Linked DNA regions of Homo sapiens. The protein of the gene in region 4 purifies or fractionates together with the protein of the main gene of each other region. This does not show direct contact. Each region holds a gene or a part of one and is shown on either strand. Other genes may lie near its edges.

Region 1 (5,152 bases), about 22 Mb from region 4:
CCCGCCTCAGCCTCCCGAGTAGCTGGGATTACAGGCGCCTGCCACCACGCCCAACTAATTTTTGTGTTTTTAGTAGAGACGTGGTTTCACCATGCTGGCCAGGTTGGTCCCAAACTCCTGACCTCAGGTCATCTGCCCACCTAGGCCTCGCAAAGTGCTGGGGATTATAGGCACGAGCCACCATGCCCAGCTGGCTGAACAGTTTCTTTTGACCAGCTCAACTCTCACCTGGAGCAGAGTTTCTGACCTCCAGATCTCGTGGGAGGCGGGGTCTGCATTCACAGACGTCTGATGAGAGATGTGTCGCTTTAGGAGGCTAGTGTGGTGGAGGCCATAGGAAGCAAAGGGTATGGCTGGTGTCCTGAGGGAGACACAGAAACAGGCCCGAGTTACAGGCTCCCGCTGTAACTCGCTCCCGCTGTAACAGGGGCAATCTGGATATCAAAATCAACGAGAGCAGGGACAGATTACAACTTGTTCAATAGCACAATGCACACCTCCCCCCAGCCCCCTGATCCACACTGATATACCTGAATAAATAAATAGCAAAGAGAGAAGTCTTCCTTACCACAGAGTGACCATTGACCCACAAATCAATGAAGGAGGGATGAAGTTAGAGAACCACCATTTAGTAACCGCCCTATTAATAGCTGATTTGGTCAAGAATCAACAGTGAGGTTGGGCATGGGGGTTCACACCTGTGAGCATGGGGGCTCACACCAGCACCTTGGGAGACCAAGGCAGGAGGATTTCTTGAGGCCAGGCATTTGAGATCAGCCTGGGCAACAAAATGAGAACCTATCTCCACAAAAACATTGAAACATAAAACAGCTGGGCCTGGTGGCATGTGCCTGTAGTCCTAGCTACTTAGAAGGCTGAGGAGGGAGAATGGCCTGGGCCCACGAGTTGAGGCTATAGTGACAAATGATCGTACCAACTTCACTCCACCCTGGGGTGACAGAGCAAGACCCTGTTTCTAAAAAATTAAGAAATTCCCAGCCTGGGCAACATGGCAAAACCCTGTCTCCACAAAAAAATACAAAAATTAGCCAGGTGTGGTGATGCCTCCCTGTAGTCCCAGATACTTGGGGGGTTGAGACAGGAGGATCACTTGAGCCCAGGAGGTTGAGGTTGCTGTGAGCAGAGATCGTACCACTGCACTCCAGCCTGGGGTAAGAGAACAAGACCCTGTCTGCAAATAAAATCAATTTGAAAAAATAGGAGAATCAAAAGTGGATGTTAATACTACTGATAATTACATAGTCTCCATACATCTTCCCGGTAAATTCTCGTTATCAATTTTTTTTTGAGACAGGATCGTACCCTATCGCCTAGGCTGGAGTGCAATGATGCAATCACAGCTCACTGCAACCTCAACCTCCTAGACTTAGGCCTCCCAAGTAGCTGGGACCAACACCACCACGCCTGGCTGATGTTTTTCTTTTTAGTAGAAACAAGGTCATGCTATGTTGCCCAGGCACTATTAATTTTTTTTTTTTTTTTTTTGGTTGAGATACGGTCTCACTCTGTAGCCCAGGCTGGAGTACAGGGGCATGATCTTGGCTCACTGCTACCTCCGCCTCCTGGGTGCAAGCAATCCTCCCACCTCAGCCTCTCAAGTAGCTGGGATTACAGGCGCACACCACCACACCTGGTTATTTTTAAATTTTTGGTAGAGATGGGATTTTGCTATGTTGCCTGAGCTGGTCTCACACTCCTGAGCTCCAGTGATCCGCCCACCTCAGCCTCTCAAAGTCCTGGAATTACAGGCATGAGCCACCATGCCCAGCCTCATTACTATTTAACCTGGGCACAAAGTAATTATTTTACAATGGAAAAACCTGACCGGCACCTTTTTAACCCAGTGATAAAAGGGCACCTGGCAAGGACCAGGTGTCCCACTACGGTGCTCCTCCCAACAAAGCCCATGCTGGGCCTAGTCACCAGCAAATACCACACAGCCTAAGGGGCGGCCGCATGCTCTGGAGGGGTCAAGGTCAGGAAAGACAGAAAGGCAAGGGACCATTCCTGACTGAAGGGGACTAGAAATATCACTATATACAGTGGGTGAGCCTGTGAAACATCACTGCACACAGTGTGAGGCCTGGTGGCAATACTAACTTCCTGGTGTGGTTACAGGCACTGTGACTATATAGGATAATGCATTCGCTTCTAGGAAATACACTGAAATATTAAGAGGTCAAGGGATGCCATATCCTGTAGCTTACTCATATTGGCTTAGAGAAAAAAAAACACATACAATAGAGGTGGAAACCAACACATGCAGCAAAGTATTAACAGTTTGGAAATCTGGGTGAAGATCTATGAAAGTTTCTTTTTTTTTTTTTTCCCTGAGACAGGATCTTGTTCTGTTACCCCAGGCTAAAGTGCAGTGGCACGCTCACAGCTCATTGCTCCTGGGCACAAGTGATCCTCCCACCTCAGCCTCCTGAGTAGCTGGGACCATAGTTGCACATCACCATACTTGGCTAATTTTTTTTTTGTAGAAATGAGGTCTCCCGACGTTGCCCACACTGGTCTCGAATTCCTGGCCTCAAGTGATCCTCCCGCCTTGGCCTCCCAAAGTGTTGGGATTACAGGCGTGAGCCACTGTGCTCAGCCTGCAAGTTATTTTTATTATGCGTGGAAACTTATCTGTAAATCTGAAGTTATTTCAAAATAAAAAGTTAGGTGTGGTGACTTGCAACTGTAATTCCAGCTACTTGGGAAGCTGAGGCGGGAAGATTGCTGAGGCCAGGAGTTCAAGACCAGCCTGGGCAACACAGCGAGGCATCCCCATATCTCCGCAAAAAAAAAAAAAAAAGTTAAATTAGCTGGCTGTAGTGATGCATGCCTATAGTCACTGATGTGACAGGCTGGCTTGAGTGATGATTGTGCCACCAAGTGATGATTATGACACTGCACTCCAGCCTGTGTGACAGAGTAAGACCGTCTTTAAAAATACATAATGGCTAGGCCAGGAGCGGCGGCTCACACCTGTAATCCCAGCACTTTAGGGGGTCGAGGCAGGCAGATCACTTGTGGTAAGGAGTTCAAGATCAGTCTGCTCAACATGGTGAAACCCTGTCTCTACTAAAGATACAAAAATTAGCTGGGTGTGGTGACAGGCACCTGTAGTCCCAGCTACTTGGGACTGAGCCAGGAGAATCACTTGAAGCAGAGACAGCGCCACTGCACTCCAGCCTGGGCAACAGAGTAAGACCCTGTCAAAAAAAAAAAAAAAAGCACACAATGGACCAGTGTAGTGGTTCATGCCTGTAATCTCTGAACTTTGGGAGGCTAAGGCAGGAGGATCGCTCGAGCCCAGGAGTTCTAGAGCAGCCTGGGCAACATAGCAAGACCCATCTTACAAAAAAATAAAATAAAAGCTAGGTGTGGGGGTGCATGCTTATAGTACTAGCTACTTGGGAGGTTGAAGTGGGAGGATCACTTGAGCTCAGGAGGTCAATGTTGCAGTGAGTTGTGATCACAACACTGCACTCCAGGCTGAGCAACCCAGCCAGGCCCTGTCTCAAAAAAAAAAAAATGCTGGGTGCAGTAGCTCACACCTGTAATCCCAGCACTTTGTCTGAGGCCAAGGTGGACGGATTGCCTGAGGTCAGGAGTTTGAGGCCAGCCTGGCCAACATGGTGAAACCCCGTTACTACTAAAAATACAAAAATTAGTCGGGCATGCTGACCTGTGCCTGTAATCCCAGCTACTTGCGAGGCTGAGGTGGGAGAATCACTTGAACCCAGGAGATGGAGGTTGCAGTGAGCCAAGATCATGCCACTGCACCACTCCAGCATGGGCGACAGAGTGAGACTCCATCTCCAAACACAAAATAAAATAAAATAAAATAAAATAAATAAATAAACCCAAACCATATATATATAATTTCTTTTCTTTTTTTTTTTTGTGTGTGTGTACAGTGGTGCAATCTCAGCTCACCACAACCTCCGCCTCCCGGGTTCAAGCAATTCTCCCGCCTCAACCTCCTGAGTAGCTGGGATTACAGGTGTGCACCACCATGCCCAGCTAATTTTTGTATTTTTAGTAGACAAGGTTTCACCATGTTGGCTAGGCTGGTCTCGAATTCCTGACCTCAGGCGATCCCTCCACCTTGGCCTCCCAAAGTGCTGGGATTACAGGCATCAGTCACCACTCCCAGCCTACGTATATAATTTCTAATAGAAAAAATTAAAACAACCCAAAAAGTTAAAACAAGCAAAAAAACCAGGCATCAAAAACTGCTTGGCAGCTGAATTCTGCATCTAAGAGGGTGTGAATCTGCCTCACCTCCGAGTCCTCCACAGGATCAGCAACATTTCAGGGTCACTGATCACTGCCGCTACCTGGGCAGCGTCTCCTCCTTGCCACTCCCTTTCTCCCCTCCACCCTCTGGGGAATCTGTCCACACGTGAATTGTAGGTAAAGGCCTGGCCTGCCTTACACATGCCAGCAGATCTGGGGTGGGCCAGCATCTGCAGGAAGGGGCCTGCATGCAGCTTCCTGGGGAAGGCGATGGGCCAGTGAGATTAAAGAGGGTCAGAGGTGCACAGGCAGCTGCTGCTGGGGCAAGAGGGTCTCCTGGGAAGTCGGCCTGCGTTAGTGCCCACTGAGGACCCAGGACAGCCAGGCATGAGAGCCCCTGGTTCACACTCCCAACCTGTGCAGGCACGCATCAGGCTCAGCCTGTTTGGACTGACAAAACAGGCTCTTTGGCCCAGGGCCTCCCCTTCAAGATCTGCTCCTGGGGCCCATAGAGATTCCTATTTTTTTTGCTCATAGGACAACCTTTCCACCCTGCTCACTGACTCAGACACCGCCTGTGGGGACGGCTGCTCCATGCACAACACAGCCCATTCCCATGCAGGCCGTGGAGGCCTCCAGGGACCTGATAGCTTCAGTGATGGCCAAAGACACTGAACACTAAGGACAGATTGCCCGCCATACCCCACCCTCCAGTCTGTGCTAAGACAGCTGGGGATGGGGAATGAGGCATAAGAAAAATTGGGGAACCGTGGACAAAGGGTGGCAACATTGTCCCCGTGGGCGATGCAAGTGACCAGGCCACTCCCTTATGGAAGGGCCAGGTCTTAACAAAGGGCAGCCTTACCTGGGAGGTGGTGAGGGGCTGGTCCCCCCTGGG
Region 2 (5,152 bases), on a different chromosome or scaffold from region 4:
TTTATGCCCAGAACCTTGAGCTAATCCAACACCTTTTGTTTGTTTTGGTTCTTACCCTCTCTGGGCTGAAGATGGGGAATAGTTTTGTTCTTTTTTTATGTTGTCAGAAGAAAGAGGTGGATGGTTTCCCTTCTTTGCGCCAAGATTGAACAAGGGCACCATTACAGATTAGCATCAGTCTGTAGGGGACTGTGGGAAGAAAGTTTGAGAAGCATTACCTAGAGATATAGGAATCTGATTTCAGGATACTATTATCAGTGAATGATCTCTTCCTAATGCCTTAAATGAAGACGGACTGTTCCTCTACCAACCTTAATGAGATCCTCCTATCTTATAAATCTGAATTCATTTCCTTATTTCTTGAGCTAAGTAAACCATGTTTATCTTGAAACAGTTCAGAGCAGTCCTCACTTTCTTAGATAGAATTCAACTTGGCAAACATTTATACAGAAGGCTTTTCCATGTAAAATCCAAATAATCAACCTGTAAGTGAACTTTTGGAGCACCAAGTCATTTCAGATCGTGAATTTCCTGTAGGAGACTAGGGAACCATGTGGCTCTGAAAATGAGTGTAGTTTTTTATGTCAGGTTCAAGATCTTGAAGCGCTCAAACAATATTCCAGGGATTTCCAGGGATGGCTGTGGCTGTCAATAGCGGATTGATTCCAGGGATAGATGTGGCTGTCAATAGCGGATTGTGCGTGACTGTTTCCATTGCACCGGCAGCTTCACGTTCCCCTGTCTGTTAACTAAGCTGCTCTTTATTAACAGTAGATTCCAAATACAGGGCCCTAGTCTCTGCAGAGTTCATTGTCTCAGAAGGAAACGAGCGATGGTATTGGTTGATGAGGGCTGTCAGGGTGCGTGAACTAATCACTGTGGGGGAGCAGAAGAAAGAGGCTTACACCCAGTGGGTGATGGATCAAGAAATGTCTCACCCACACTCCCACCCTTTTTTTACCCACTAGCTGAGTCTTGGAAGATGAAGAGGTGTTTTTGAGGCAGAGACAACTACAGGTTTCCTACAACATGAAATGGCAGGAGTTAGTGAAGGAGCGATGGGAAAGGCCAGCTCTTTGGGGCTAGGTGTAGGCTGTGGGTGGTAGAGTGGTGGGCAGGGACATGGAGGGAAGGTCTGCGTGCCAGGCTTTGTGTGGTTGCTGTCCAGAGCTATTGGTGACATTTCGGCAGGACAGTAGCCTGATGGGATGTGTGTTTTGGAAGATCAGCCCAGCGGTGTTGCTGCTGCAGAGGGTGGCTAGAGTTGGTCAAGTACCGGTACCTAGCTAGAGCTGGACAGGACCGGTACCTGTTGAGGGACGCTTGGGTAGCATTTATCAAGAAGTCTAAAATGCAGCTCTCTTGAGGTCTGGCAATTGCTCTAGAATTTTTTCCAAAGGAATTTTAAAGGTGTGCTTAAATGTGTACATATGAAGTGGAAATTTCAGGTATTTTAGGTGTCCTGCTTTAGGAGATAAGGACCAAAATTGACTTAACTGATTCATCCATACTGTGGTCTGCATCTCTAACAAGTAAAAATGGTGTGGCTGAAATACTTTTATTGACATGAGGAGAGGTTCAGAATATACTTAAGTGAAAGTAAACTGTAAAACAGTATGGCCAGTACAAAGCCCTTCTGTGTTTAAAGTAAAACAAAAGTGTATGTTTGTGTAGCATAGAAAAGGAAACATCAAAGGATGTACTCACTGTGATGCCAAGTGATCTTTTATATTCTTCTTAGCTCTTTTCTATATATTCTGGTTTTTCTACAGTAAGCAGTTATTTTGTAATAAAGCTACAGTAAAACCACAAAAAGATGTCAGCTCTAAGAGAAACTGCATTCCATTTTGAGCACGTTAGGCTGCTGGTGTGGAGGTCCGCTAGGCACAGAGCTGCAGCCCGTTCTCGTTTCAGTCAGTTACCATTAATTCTGTCCTGAAGTGACAGAATTAGCTTAGCACACATTTACTTGGTTAGTGTCACAACCGTTTTCCTCAGTTACTGTAACTTCACGCTTCCAGGTGACATTGGGGAGGATCTGGTGGCAGCATTTTCAGTGCAGGGGCCTCAGCTTTTGTATCTTAATGTAAATACTCAGTGCTTCCACCTGTTGTTGAGGCCTTTTTGGCTTCTGGTTCCGGATGGCATTGGGTGAACAAGAAAACCTAGCTACAGTTTACAAGCATAAAAGCTGTCCATCTTCTCACCTGAATTCAGTGTCATCTCTGAAGCATTTATAGCTGCAGCATTTTTTCTGTAGACAAATACATTTTCTGGATGATTACAAATAAGGTCCAGTCTGCTCTGATGTGGTGTCAAGTTGATGCCTGTAAACCAAAAGCCTGAGGATTATTGACTGTAGGTGTTGAGGCCATTGAAATTGTGGTTTTCTAGGTGGACCATAGGCGCAAAGACTGTTACACTTTGCTCGGCGTGTTTGGTAACTGATGGCAGTGTCTGCAGGTAATTGGGCACAATTTAGAGGCGCACACGGATCCAGACACAGAATGTGGCCTCAGAAGCTAACACTGGAATCAAGTTGTCTGGCCTTCAGTTAAATCCAGCCCAAGCACTGCAAAGTTGTCCTTGACCGGCAGGTTTTGTCCAGGTTTTCAAGTCGCCAAGCCATGCATGCTGGGAGTGGGTCTGAAAGTGGTTGAAGTGTGTGTAAGGCTGGTCTCCTTATCCACGATGACTGTTTGTTCAGCCTTAGCAGTGTCCGTGAGCCTGGAAAAGTGATGTGGGTGACCACCTGGGAGGCGCGTGTGTGGGATGGAAAGCCAGTGTGGAGGCTGTGGGGCCAGGGTGGCTGGTGACTGTGTTTAGGTGGGCTTTATAGAGGACGGTGCCTCAGTTCAGGGAGACGGTGATTTGCAAAGTGGTCGGCCAGAACAAGTTCAGGGTGGTTTAATTGTTTGCATTAAACGATACTGATTTTTGGTTCATGTGGATCATTAAGTATTAGTCGCATATTTATACTTTTAAGGATACAGCAGCGATATGCAAATTATGAAAGGAGCTCTCCAACACTTTCAAGCTTTGGAAATGTCTCATGAGATCAGAATTCGTCTTCTGTCATTTACACTCCAAATTTTAATTGTGATGTTTCAAAAGTGGCCTATTTGTGGTCTCTGTTCCCATTGTTTGCCGTGAACCTGGGCTCAAAGGGCGGGCTCCTCGTAGCTCTTAATACCTTGGAATGCCGTCTGGGCTTGTGCCCAGGCCATTGTTGAAGTGGGAGGCTGTAATCCCCCCTGCCAACAGCTTAATTAAGAAAAAAAAGGGCTCTTTACTGCTTGCTTTCCCCTCAAGTCTATTTTTTAGGATGGACAGTAAGGAGTATAATTTGGTTTTTCTTTTAAAATAATTTTCCCACCATTCACAGCCTCTGTTACATTTTCCCACCTCCTTTCAAAAAGGGTTTGAGATTGGACAGGTCATAAGGACGTGCACGATGAGACAGTTAAAGGTTTTGAAAGAGGAAACCACATACCCGGAAACCACATGCACAGAAGTGGGAAACTGCAGCTGAATGCATTTGCTGCAGAGCTTTTGGGACCAAGGCAGAAGATGGAGATGAGGGATTGAACAGTGTTTGCAACATCCTGCCAGAGGGGATTCCTTCCGGCCGAGGAGAGGCCCGTGGCATCACTTGGTGGCCTTGAAAGACCCCTCCCTTTTCTGAAGGCTGTGGCTCTGGCTGGCAGCATAGAGTGGTGCCCTCCGTGTACTCTCTTGGAGGATGAACTTGGACTGCTGCTCCATCACACTGTACTTCCTGTAAGGATACCTCCATCATTGACCTTGGGAGAAGTTTCCCTCAGGCCTTAGTATGTTTTTACACTTAACCCTGAACAGTAGGACACAGTCTCGTGACTTCTCATGGCTGCCTGCTGAAAAGTTTGTAGCTGAATTTGGGCCCACCACTAGCACATCCGTAGGTCACGTGATGGCAGGTAGGTCTCAGCACAAGAGCACTTTGCAGTTGAAGTGGTGGCTCCTGAGAGTGCTCTCACTGAGTCAGGGTTTGCCCTGGGCAGGGCAGCCTCCACCAGGATTTGCCTTTCGTTCCTTGCGTAAGGGTTTCCTACTCTTACTTTTCTTTGGTCTCATTTTCTTGCTGATTTTTCTCATCCTGTATGATTTTGGTTAAGTTGTCTTAAATCCCTTCTGTAACAGGGGAGAATGTAAATACAGCTGGCCCTGCTATCTGCTACATCTGTGGATTCCACCATCCATGGATTGAAAATATTTGGGGGGAAAAACAATAGAAAATAACAATAATAAAAACAATACAAGTAAATACAATATAGTATAACGACTATTTACATAGCATTTACATTGTATTAGGTATTATGAGTAATCTAGAGACTATTTAAAGTATACAGGAGGGTATGTGAAGGTTTAAGCAAATACTGCACCATTTTATATCAGGGACTAAAGCGTCTGTGGATTTTGGGGTCCTGGGATCATTCCCTCTTGGATGATAAGGAACAGCTGTATATACCCTTAATTCCTATTATCCATCAGTTCTACAGAGAGAAAAACCCATATCCTCCCTTCTTTAACTTCCAAGATGATTTTATCATGAGTCCTTTTAAACTGACTGCCGTGTAGCCATCAGACAGCACATGTAATAGTGATTTTGGGGAACTCACAGAAAATCTCCCCACCTTTTTAATGGTAACTAGTAGAATAACTATTAAAGCTTAAAAATCACAATTGAAACGACTCAATCTTACTCCATTTTTCTTTCAGTTTTTCTTGTTGGATAAAAAAATTTTATTACAAAAGTAAAAATTCTCTGTTGTTACATGTTTTGATTTCTTTGGTTGCTTGTTAGCCTCAAAGCTTTTGCCCAGTTAAAACTTTTTTTCCAGCTCTAAATATACCTGTTGCAGAAAACTTAGAAAATTTAGAAAACACAAGGAAGACTATTGGCCGGGCGCAATGGCTTCCGCCGGTAATCCCAGCCCTTTGGGAGGCCGAGGTGGGCGGATCACAAGGTCAGGAGTTCGAGACCAGCCTGACCAACATGGTGAAACCCTGTCTCAACTATAAGTACAAAAATTAGCTGGGCGTGGTGGCAGGTGCCTGTAATCCCAGCTACTCGGGAGGCTGAGGCAGGAGAATCGTTTGAACCTGGGAGACG
Region 3 (4,543 bases), on a different chromosome or scaffold from region 4:
TAACATATAGAGACCAACCAGCCCTCAGAAACATTCCACTAAGCTATCCTTCCATCAGCAGAAAGAGGGATTGTTTTTTCCCAAACCTTTGAAAACTGCACATATTTTTTTTCACATGCTTTTATTGCTAGTCAGTCTGAGGCATTATCTCAACTTTTCCCTAGGAAGAAGAGGATTCTGGAATGTTCAACACACATCCCTGCACCTGGCTCCCCACTAACTGTAGCATGTTATACCTGCAATAGAGCACTGTTTAGTATTTATGTGGTCACATTCATGTAAATTTGAGTCACAGCTGCATTTAGTCTTCCTTTGCCGCACAGCCTTCCATTCATCCTGGTGTCAATAGCTGTGTTTGGCTTCTTCCTCTATTCAATCACAGCCTGCATTGCATGGAGTTCATCTGTTTTGACAAACCTGTGTCTCCTGGGCCTTCGCCCTGCCGTACCTGGACTGGCCTTTCTCTAGGTGCCGTACATGTTAGTGGGGGCTCCTTATTTCCTGGATTCTATGACTTTCTTATTTCTACCTTATTCCTTCATTTTAGTGAGGAACACCTCCTAGGAGCTTCCTGAGAAAAGATGCATGAGGATTATCTTCTTGTGAGTTCCTTTTTTCTAATCTCATATTTCATTGATAGGCTGGTTGGTATGTTAGTCTGCTAGGGCTGCCATATAAAATGCCAAAGATAGGGTGGCTCAAACAACAGAAATTTATTCTTCATAGTTTTGGAGGCTAGAAGTGCAGGATCAAGGTGTCAGCAGGTTTGGTTTCCTCTGACACCCTTTTCCTTGGCTTGCAGATGGCTGCCTTCTTGCTGTGTCCTCACATGGCCCTTCCTATGTCCAAATTTCCTCTTCTTAAAAGGACACCAGATTGAATTATGGCCAACTCTAATGGTCTTATTTTAACTTAATTGCTTCTTTAAATGGCCCTATCTGAGTTACTGGGGGTTAGGGCTTCAACACAGAAACACTGGAGGGACACAATCCAGCTCATAAGAGTTGGTACAGAATTTTAGGTTGGAAAAAATTTCCCCTCAGAATTTTGAGTATATTGCTCCACTATCTTCTAGTTTCCTCTGTGTCCTGCTAAGATGATGTCCCTTTTTTTGGGAGACAGGGACTTACTGTTACCCAGGCTGGAGTGCAGTGGTGTGATCTCAGCTCACAGCAGCCTCCACCTCCCAGGCTCAAGTGATGCTCCCAACTCAGCATTAAAGTAGCTGGGACTATAGGTGCGTGCCACCATGCTTGGCTAATTTTTAAAATTTTCTGTAGAGACAGGGTCTCCCTATATTGCCCAGGCTGGTCTCAAACTCCTGGGCTCAGATGATCTTCCCGCATCAGCCTCCCAAAGTGTTGGGATTACAGGTGTGAGCCATGGCGCTTGGCTGATGATGTCCTTAATGCATGGTGATACCTCTGTTCTCTCTCTAGAAGCTTTAGGATCTTTCTTTGCCTCAAAGTGGGGCTATTTTCATTCATTTTGCTGGAACTCAGTGAGCCCTTCAAATCTGCAAAATTGTGCCCATCTTTGGGGAAACTATTTCCCTGATGATTTCTGCTCCTTTGGTTTCTGTGGCTGTTCTTCCCACAAATCCTCTATTATTTAGATGCTGGAATGGAAAGCTTTCTGACTGTGGCCTTCACTTCAGAGATAGTAGTCTAGAGACCTACTGGAGTCGAGCCTCCAGCCTTCTGGGATGGGGGAGGGAGGGTAATGCAGCTCTAACTGCTTAGTAACAGAATTCTGTCTTTAGTCCCTCATTTCTAGAGGTGCCTTTTGAGAATTCCACAATCTACACAGAACTGCTTCTAGGCTTTCTATGGTCTACTAAGGTACCTGGGGCTTCCAAAGCCTTGTAGTTGCCTCCTCTTCCACTGTCTTTCTTACCTCATGACCTTTAGCCACAGCCTTAGTGGGGCTGCAGGATGGAATAGAGCTAAATATGTCTTCAATCCCATCTTTAAACATATACTTCTTAAATACATATTTATGGTCAAACAGGCCTGCTGTGCCCACTGGCCTCCCCTGCCTTCTGTAAATTTGCAACAGTCAGGTCACAGTCAGCCTGGGGGACGTCCCATGCTAAGGTCTTAGGTCGGAGTCAGGCACTGGCTTTTAGTGAGAAAGGCAGCCTGTAGCTGGTGAAGCCTGGATGGTGCCTGAAGGAGGAGCTGGAGGGTGAGGTCTGACTGGCCACTATGTTTGCTCCTCTGAGCCTGAAAGGTCCCAATGCCCAATGCTGTTTCAACTTGAACATTGAGCCCAGAAGTGGTTGTGAGTAGGACCAGGTGTGCAAACTTCACAGTGGTCTCTGTCCCCAACCACCCCAAGTGCTAGAGAAAAGAGTTCAGTAATTGGGATGGCTCCCATGTAGCAGCTGGTCCTGAATGGGTGGCTCAGTACATCTGCCCTCTGCCCTGATCCTGGATCCTCAAGGGTCCAATCCTTTGAGAAAAGGAACCAGGAGAGCGATGGGTCTGAAGCGCTGGTGTTGTAGAAATCCTCATCACAAAGAGGTGACTGCGTTCCAGTTGCTGCCAGGCCTGGCCATATTCCCACAAAGTGCCCATGTCTACAGGATGCTCAGCCCTTGCCTTCCTCTGTCCCGCCACCACCCTGCTCAGCTAGAAGGTGCTGCCTATATTTGAAGTTCAAGGTCTCTGTTGGAAGACGAAGCCCACCCAGGGCACACAGTTCTGTGATAACAGAGCCTGGAGTCGGCTCTAGAGCAAGACAGAGCTCCTGACCCCCATGCTGCAAGTCTTCTGTTTCATACACCCTACACCAGCTCTACAGAAAAAAACAGGACACCAGGGAGCAGAGGGACCCTAGGAAAGGGAAAACATGACAGACACCCTCATGTGGTTTGGCTGCGTCCCCACCCAAATCTCATCTTGAATTACCACGTGTTGTGGGAGGGACCAGGTGGGAGGTAACTGAGTCGGTGGGAGGTAACTGAGTCATGAGGGCGGGTCTTTTCCGTGCTGTTATCATGATAGTGAATAAGTCTCATGAGATCTGATGGTTTTATAAGTAGGTGTTTCCCTGCACCAGCTTTTTCTCTGCCTGCTACCATCCATGTAAGATGTGACTTGCCCCCTGCCATGATTGTGAGGCCTCCCCAGCCATGTGAACTGTAAGTCCATTAAACCTCTTTCTTTTGTAAATTGCCCAGTCTCGGGTACATCTTTACCAGCAGCTTGGAAACAGACTAATGCACACCCCTACTCAGAATGCCAAGAACTTCAGTCATCACTAGCAAATAAATCTCCTCATTACCAACCAAGGAAATACAAGGAAATACACTCACCTCTTCAACCTTTTTGACAAGGGGACGTGAATTTCTGATGAAAGTTATCTTACCAAGTTTAAATTCATAATTGGGAATTCCTCTGTAAGAAGAGACAGAGACAGAGAAATGTTATTTCCAGGAAAAAAGGACTAAAATTCATTTTTGACAGTCAAGAGGAACGCAGAAAAGATGCTGCTGCACCCCACCTGGGCCCTTTGGTGCTTCCTGGCATCCTCCCAGGAGGGAAGCAGAAAGTAACTGACTTCTTGGTTTGGTATCAATATTGGGTATAGGGCCAGGGGCTTTAGGCTCTGTACCTGTCTATGGAGAGGGGTCATCTGAAGGATTGGGAAGCCCTCACTGTCACTGTCCTGAGCTTCACAGAACCCCCTGAGGTGGCTAGACTCTCACTCCAGTATTCTGATTTCACACACACAACAGACAACTGACACACCTCAGCCCTGCCCCTGCCATCATGGCCACCAGAGGAAGGGTCTGCTGTGGGTCCCCGGACCCAGCAACAGAAGCACATCTGAGGTAGCTCCTCAGGGAACTTTCAGGGGAACTGAGATAATGTGACCTGATTAATAATTCCAAGTCACAAAACAGGAAAATAGGCAGATCACCAAATAGGGACCAGAAAGGTTTTGAGTAAGAGACAGATCTAATCAGACTCGCATCTTAGGAAAGCCAGTGGGGGCAAGAAGAGGCTGAATTGGGGGTATGGAGAGGTATGGAGAGAGGCTGGACCACAGTGGTACTGGGGGTGGCACTGTGGAAGGAGGGGCATGTTGTGCTCCACCCCACCAAGGAGAGCAGCTAAGGGTTTTAGTCCCTTGGGAGACTACTGACCCAGGCTTTGTCTCCAGAACTGGGGTGAGGCTGCCCGACCCCAGCGGGCTGGCACAGATCCTCCTCCTGTCCTGGAGGAGAGCCAGGACAGACCTACCTTTTAATATCTCCAGGCTTGATTGGGGAGGGGCTGGGCTCTACCCCTTTCTTCTTTCCATCCAGTCTATTGCCAGATCCAGAGAAAGCCTAGACAGGAAGTAGGTGAGTCATATAATAAGCCCAAGTGTGAGGACGATATGTCCTTTGCTTGGAGATCACTGCAGGGATGTGAGCTGGGGGTGCTGTGCAGACCCCTTCAGGACTGAAGCCCTGACTCCTCAACTGCTGGGGTGCTGGCAGCTAAGAACTCTGCCCAGTTCCTCAGGGGGTGGCCATGAGCTGAAGACAGCC
Region 4 (5,152 bases):
CTAATATCTCTGAGTTACAGTTAAGTGACAGCATCTACTAGGACCCCAAATCTTTGAGATTTTAGTCAGCTAATCTTTATTTTATAATTGAACTTTTCATAATTCATGGTATATAGCTTAGAAGCGTTATTAAAGTGGAGAACTACACACAAAAAAAAAGAACGACAAAGTGTTGGAAGTAAAGTTTCGATTCGAAGTAAATGATCTCAGGAAAAAATAACTTTTCAAATATCTATAAAACAATAACTCAGTCAGTTATCTGAAGTCACTCATCTATAATTATCTCTCATCCTTGTCTTCATTCTCCAACTTCTTACTAGATTTTTCTTTTCAAGGGATCTTTACTCTGGAAAATAATTCTATTTTATCACCATAGCAAAACACTGAAAAATATTTCTTACTGATATTTTGGATCAACACATCTTATATTGAGATAATGTAGTTTCATCTCCAGTGGGTTGCATATACTACTAGCATGCCAATTGAGGAATGGGGGTAGGGTGTAAGACAACTCAGCTGGCTGCAACTGATGATACATAAAATCACAGATCCATTACATGTATGCATTTAATAATGTGACATGTAAACTGTATAGTTTTGAGAACAATAGGGAAAAGGCTACTAAAGCAACAAGTGAATTATGAACTGTCAGTCCAAGAACCACAGCGGCCCAAACTGGTCATACCTCAATATGTTCAGTGGAAATATAGGGACCAACAAACACAATAAACAATGTTATAAAGAGAAACATAAATTTGATTTCTAAGAGAAGTTTAAAATGTTGATGATGAAAATTACTTAAAAATATGATATTCAAATCTTAGGCTCTTCAGTATACTGGTATCCTAGGAGCAGGACTGGTATGTTCTACCAATTAAATAAAAGAAGAGTGATCTGTCGCAAATTAAAGAGGGAGAAATTGATTAATAACATTTACCAATTTGATAATTTGTTCCTACAAATTTTTCTCAATTCTTTGCTGCCTTAACCATTTGTTAGCTATCAAAGCCTAGTAGGGGGCAGAGTAAATGCAAAATGGCAAATGAATGTCAATTGTAAAATGTGGAAATGGGTGATCATGTTTCTCAGAAAGCCTTGTGTTTTTCATAGATGTGACTAATGACGTTTGGTAATGTAATGACGTTTTGGTCAATGATGGACTGCATATATGACAGTGGTCCCATAAGATTATAATAGCATATTTTTACTGTTACTTTCTCTGTTTAGATATGATGTGTAGATATTCAAATAGTTACCATCATGTTACACTTGCCTACAGTGTTTAGTACGGTAACAATCTGCACGAATTTGTAGCCCAGGAGCAATAGGCCATACCATGTAGCCTAGGTGTGTAGTAGGTTACACCATCAAGATTTGTGAGTGAGTACATACTGTGAAGTTGCACAACAGTGAAATCACCTAACAACACATTTCTCAGAGCACATCCCTATTGGTAAGCAACACATGGCTGTATTTGATTGAGTCAGAGTTCCAGATAGTGAAATTATTTTGAGTTCTTGTAATGTAATTAAATTTCTCAGTAATTCAGGGTCTTCTATAACCATACCATGGATCTGTGTGTCCTCCAAATAAATAAGTTAGCAAACCAGTAATTTCAGAAAGAAAAAGTATGTATCTCACTGAATTTATTAAGATATACAAATTTCAATATAAAAATTAACTTTAGGTGTTTTCATCCACTGCATTTCATATGACAGAGAGAAAAATGTTGTTTATCACTGAACTTTCATTATGTCCTTATACAAAGAGCAGAATCTGTCTGGGCACCTTGACCACAGAACTCTCTTGTTTGTTTCAGGAGCCACCATCAGCGTGATCATCGATGTGGATATGCACATTTCTGTCATCATCTCTGCACTCATTGCCACTCTGTACACACTGGTGGGAGGGCTCTATTCTGTGGCCTACACTGATGTCGTTCAGCTCTTTTGCATTTTTGTAGGGCTGGTAAGTGGGAGCACCCAAGATTCTCCTCCTTTTTTTCTGTAAAAGGTAATGTATTTTATACTAACTCATTAAAAATGAGTAGAAATATTATTTTCCCTCATGAGTAATACATACTAAGTCACATACATGAAATTTCAAATTTCTCCATAAATTAATTAGATGAAAAACTCGTCATTTTGATAAAATTTGACAGAAAAGTGTGCTCTCCATTGGACTGTTAGAAAGGTCTAGGTCTTGCTTTCCTTAATGCCTAGATTTGATGGAAACTTATGCATGATCTCCTTTTAGTATTTAAGGCAATCCATTTCCCTCGGCAGAGATAACAAAATTCAAACCTTAGTGGTAACTTGTACAAGTCTCCCTTTACGTTAGTTGGTGAATCCTAAGAATGCTCATAAGACATAGAAATGATCCCATTGGAAAACTGTGGATTTCAAATATTAATCATCACTATTTGTGGTCTAAAAACAAAGAAAATTCTTAATTATATAAGGCACCAGAAAGATTTATTATCTATTGTTTTTATTATAATTATGAGACATGAGTATTATTAGTATTATTAGCACTATATTAAAAGCACTTTTGTGTGTCTGAACATATTTTAGTCAATGTTGAAGAAATGTGAAGAGTACAGTTATGCATATAATATTCAATACCTAAGATGTATCAAAAGAAGAATAAAAACTGGTGTGTCCATGCTGGGCTAGGGTCATCATAGGTTCATGTACATTATCTCACCATACACATATATTATCCCAGTTGTAGATTCTTTAGGGGCAATGCCCTCCTGCAAAGGCCACAGACTGAGCAACCTAACACTAGAGATCATGATTCATTTTCCCAAGGATGGTTAAGTACTCTTGATTCTCCTCATCTTTATTTATTTATCTTACAATTTAAAGCATTTCATTATATTTTACTTTTGACACTAGACACTTAGAAATTAAAAATGAAGAAGTAATCTCATGCCCTTCTCTCCTTTTTATAAACTTTCCATCATCTCTAATAATATCCTAGAGGAAAAATTGTAAAAAACAGACTACAATTAGATGTGCAGTTTAACTATAAATTTACATACGCTAGCAAAGATTATAGTATTTTCTCTTTTCTCCTTAGACATTTTATTTGCATTTCATGGAATTTCGTCCATTCATATTGTAACTGAATATGAGAATATTTAATTTGCTCAAGGACTCCCACTATTTTGTATTTAAATTACCAAAATTAAGTGGACCGTGCTGAAATTCTGATTTTTCCTTAGCATCAACATAAACTTCCAGAAATAAAATAGGGAACATAGAAATAAATCCCTCTTCAGAATGTCAGGAGCCAGGTTGGTTTGGCAATGACAGCTCTCATAACTGATGCACTAGGTATTCCAAGAAACACAACCCCAGGGAATGAACCTGTTATTGATGATATATGTGATTTCTCATTGCTTTGTATGAGACTAGAACTTAAAACCCACGGGTGCATAAATCAAGTATGCAAGTGTAAAGATGACAGTGCAAATATGTTAGAATATTTTTCCTGCCACAAAATGTAGCCAAATTGATAAGGAATGGAGTTCTGTTGGTTACTAGAGAAGGCCCTATTGAATTGGTTGAATAAAAGACTAAATAATGTTGTTTTCCAAACTTTAATTGCTGTGTGAGCATACATAATTAATCAACTTACCCCTTAGACCACCTTCTTTTCTCAAATTCTCTAATGTCATTGATTTTATCATCACCCCTGGAGCTCCAAAACTGTAAACTTGAGGTTTTTCTTTTCATTTTCCCTCTCTCTGACCTCTCTCTCCTTCTTGTAAGGGTTGTTGGCTCACTCTTCATAATCCTTTTTAGTACCGATATTTTTTCATTCCCAGTGTCACTGCTTTACTTCAGCCTTCATCTAGGTGGAATTGAAATCACCTACCACTTTCCCTGACTCTTCCTTTTCACTAAACTCACCATTCATGTCTATGTTATTAAATTTCAGAATAAATTCCACTGAAAACTTTTTAAGACTTAAAAGAATTTTTTCTAGCTTCCAGTTGCCTGCAAAAACAAAATACAAATCCTTTAGCTTGCAATTTGAGTTTTCTCCACACATCCATCTTTATCTCTCCCATTTCCCCAAGCTACTCCCTTGCCAGCAAAGCCTGTCACCAACAGATGTGGGTGCGAGTGTACACGCACACACACACACCCCATTTATTCTTCTCCTCTTTGACTTGCTCCATCTAAACATCTCTTCCTTCAATTCTTTATTCTTCTACCTGTTAGTATTGGGCCCATCTTTGAAGGCTTATATGTCACCCATGTATTTCTCAATCACATATTTTCTTATTACTTTAATGAATGGATATCTTTCCCTTAAGGAATGGATATCTTTCCCTAATTCACAGAAAACATAAAAGTGTGTGTGCCTACACACACTTTTATATGGATATATATTTCAAATATAATTTTTAAAAAATTTTTATTTTATTTTGTTTATTATTATTATTTGTAGAGACCAGGTCTCACTGTATTTCCCAGGCTGATATTGAACTCCTGGACTCAAGCAATCCTCTAACAGTGGCTACCCAAAGTGCTACGATTATAGGCATGAGCCACTGTGCCTGGCAGTTTCTTTTTCTTTTGCGACAGGATCTGGCTCTGTCAGCCAGGCTGGAGTGCAGTGGCTCAATTACCACTTACTGCTGCCTCTGCCTCTCAGGTTTAAGCAATCCTCCCACCTCAGCCTCCTGAGTAGCTGGGACTACGGGTGTGCACCACCACATCTGGCTGATTTTTGTATTTTTGGTAGAGATGGGGTTTCACCAAGTTGCCCAGTCTGGTCTAGAACTCCCGAGCACAAGCAATCCACCCAGTTAGGCCTCCCAAAGTCCTGGGATTACAGGCCTGAGCCACAGTGCTCGGCACCATTTATTTATTTATTTTTTAATACAATTCTTTTTTTTTTTTTTTTTTTTTGAGATGGAGTCTTGCTCTGTTGCCCAGGTTGGTATGCAATGTCCAGTCTCGGCTCACTGCAACCTCTGCCTCCAAGGTTCAAGCAATTCTCCTGCCTCAGCCTCCCAAGCAGCTGAGAAATACAATTCTTTATTAGAACTCAAGTTTGTGTTATCCAACATTTAACAGAAGAGGAAAACAAAAACAATCCACATCCCTCCCCTCCTCCCCCCACCCACACACAA

The links. The genes of interacting proteins can lie anywhere in the genome.
Region 1: the proteins of SLC5A7 (region 4) and SMPD4 purify together in Homo sapiens (affinity purification with mass spectrometry; one large-scale study listed by BioGRID and IntAct). This does not show direct contact.
Region 2: the proteins of SLC5A7 (region 4) and CHSY1 purify together in Homo sapiens (affinity purification with mass spectrometry; one large-scale study listed by BioGRID and IntAct). This does not show direct contact.
Region 3: the proteins of SLC5A7 (region 4) and UFD1 purify together in Homo sapiens (affinity purification with mass spectrometry; one large-scale study listed by BioGRID and IntAct). This does not show direct contact.

Annotation. Positions count from the first base shown.
Region 1 is NC_000002.12:130,167,230-130,172,381, forward strand, and holds part of SMPD4 (sphingomyelin phosphodiesterase 4), read right to left. Parts: coding exon 5,120-5,152; intron 362-5,119; coding exon 229-361; intron 1-228. UniProt on the Homo sapiens protein: Catalyzes the hydrolysis of membrane sphingomyelin to form phosphorylcholine and ceramide. It has a relevant role in the homeostasis of membrane sphingolipids, thereby influencing membrane integrity, and endoplasmic reticulum organization and function.
Region 2 is NC_000015.10:101,241,176-101,246,327, reverse strand, and holds part of CHSY1 (chondroitin sulfate synthase 1), read left to right. Parts: intron 1-5,152. UniProt on the Homo sapiens protein: Has both beta-1,3-glucuronic acid and beta-1,4-N-acetylgalactosamine transferase activity. Transfers glucuronic acid (GlcUA) from UDP-GlcUA and N-acetylgalactosamine (GalNAc) from UDP-GalNAc to the non-reducing end of the elongating chondroitin polymer.
Region 3 is NC_000022.11:19,451,430-19,455,972, forward strand, and holds part of UFD1 (ubiquitin recognition factor in ER-associated degradation protein 1), read right to left. Parts: intron 4,340-4,543; coding exon 4,251-4,339; intron 3,402-4,250; coding exon 3,320-3,401; intron 260-3,319; exon of another isoform or gene 165-259; intron 1-164. UniProt on the Homo sapiens protein: Essential component of the ubiquitin-dependent proteolytic pathway which degrades ubiquitin fusion proteins.
Region 4 is NC_000002.12:107,996,019-108,001,170, forward strand, and holds part of SLC5A7 (high affinity choline transporter 1), read left to right. Parts: intron 1-1,819; coding exon 1,820-1,968; intron 1,969-5,152. UniProt on the Homo sapiens protein: High-affinity Na(+)-coupled choline transmembrane symporter. Functions as an electrogenic, voltage-dependent transporter with variable charge/choline stoichiometry.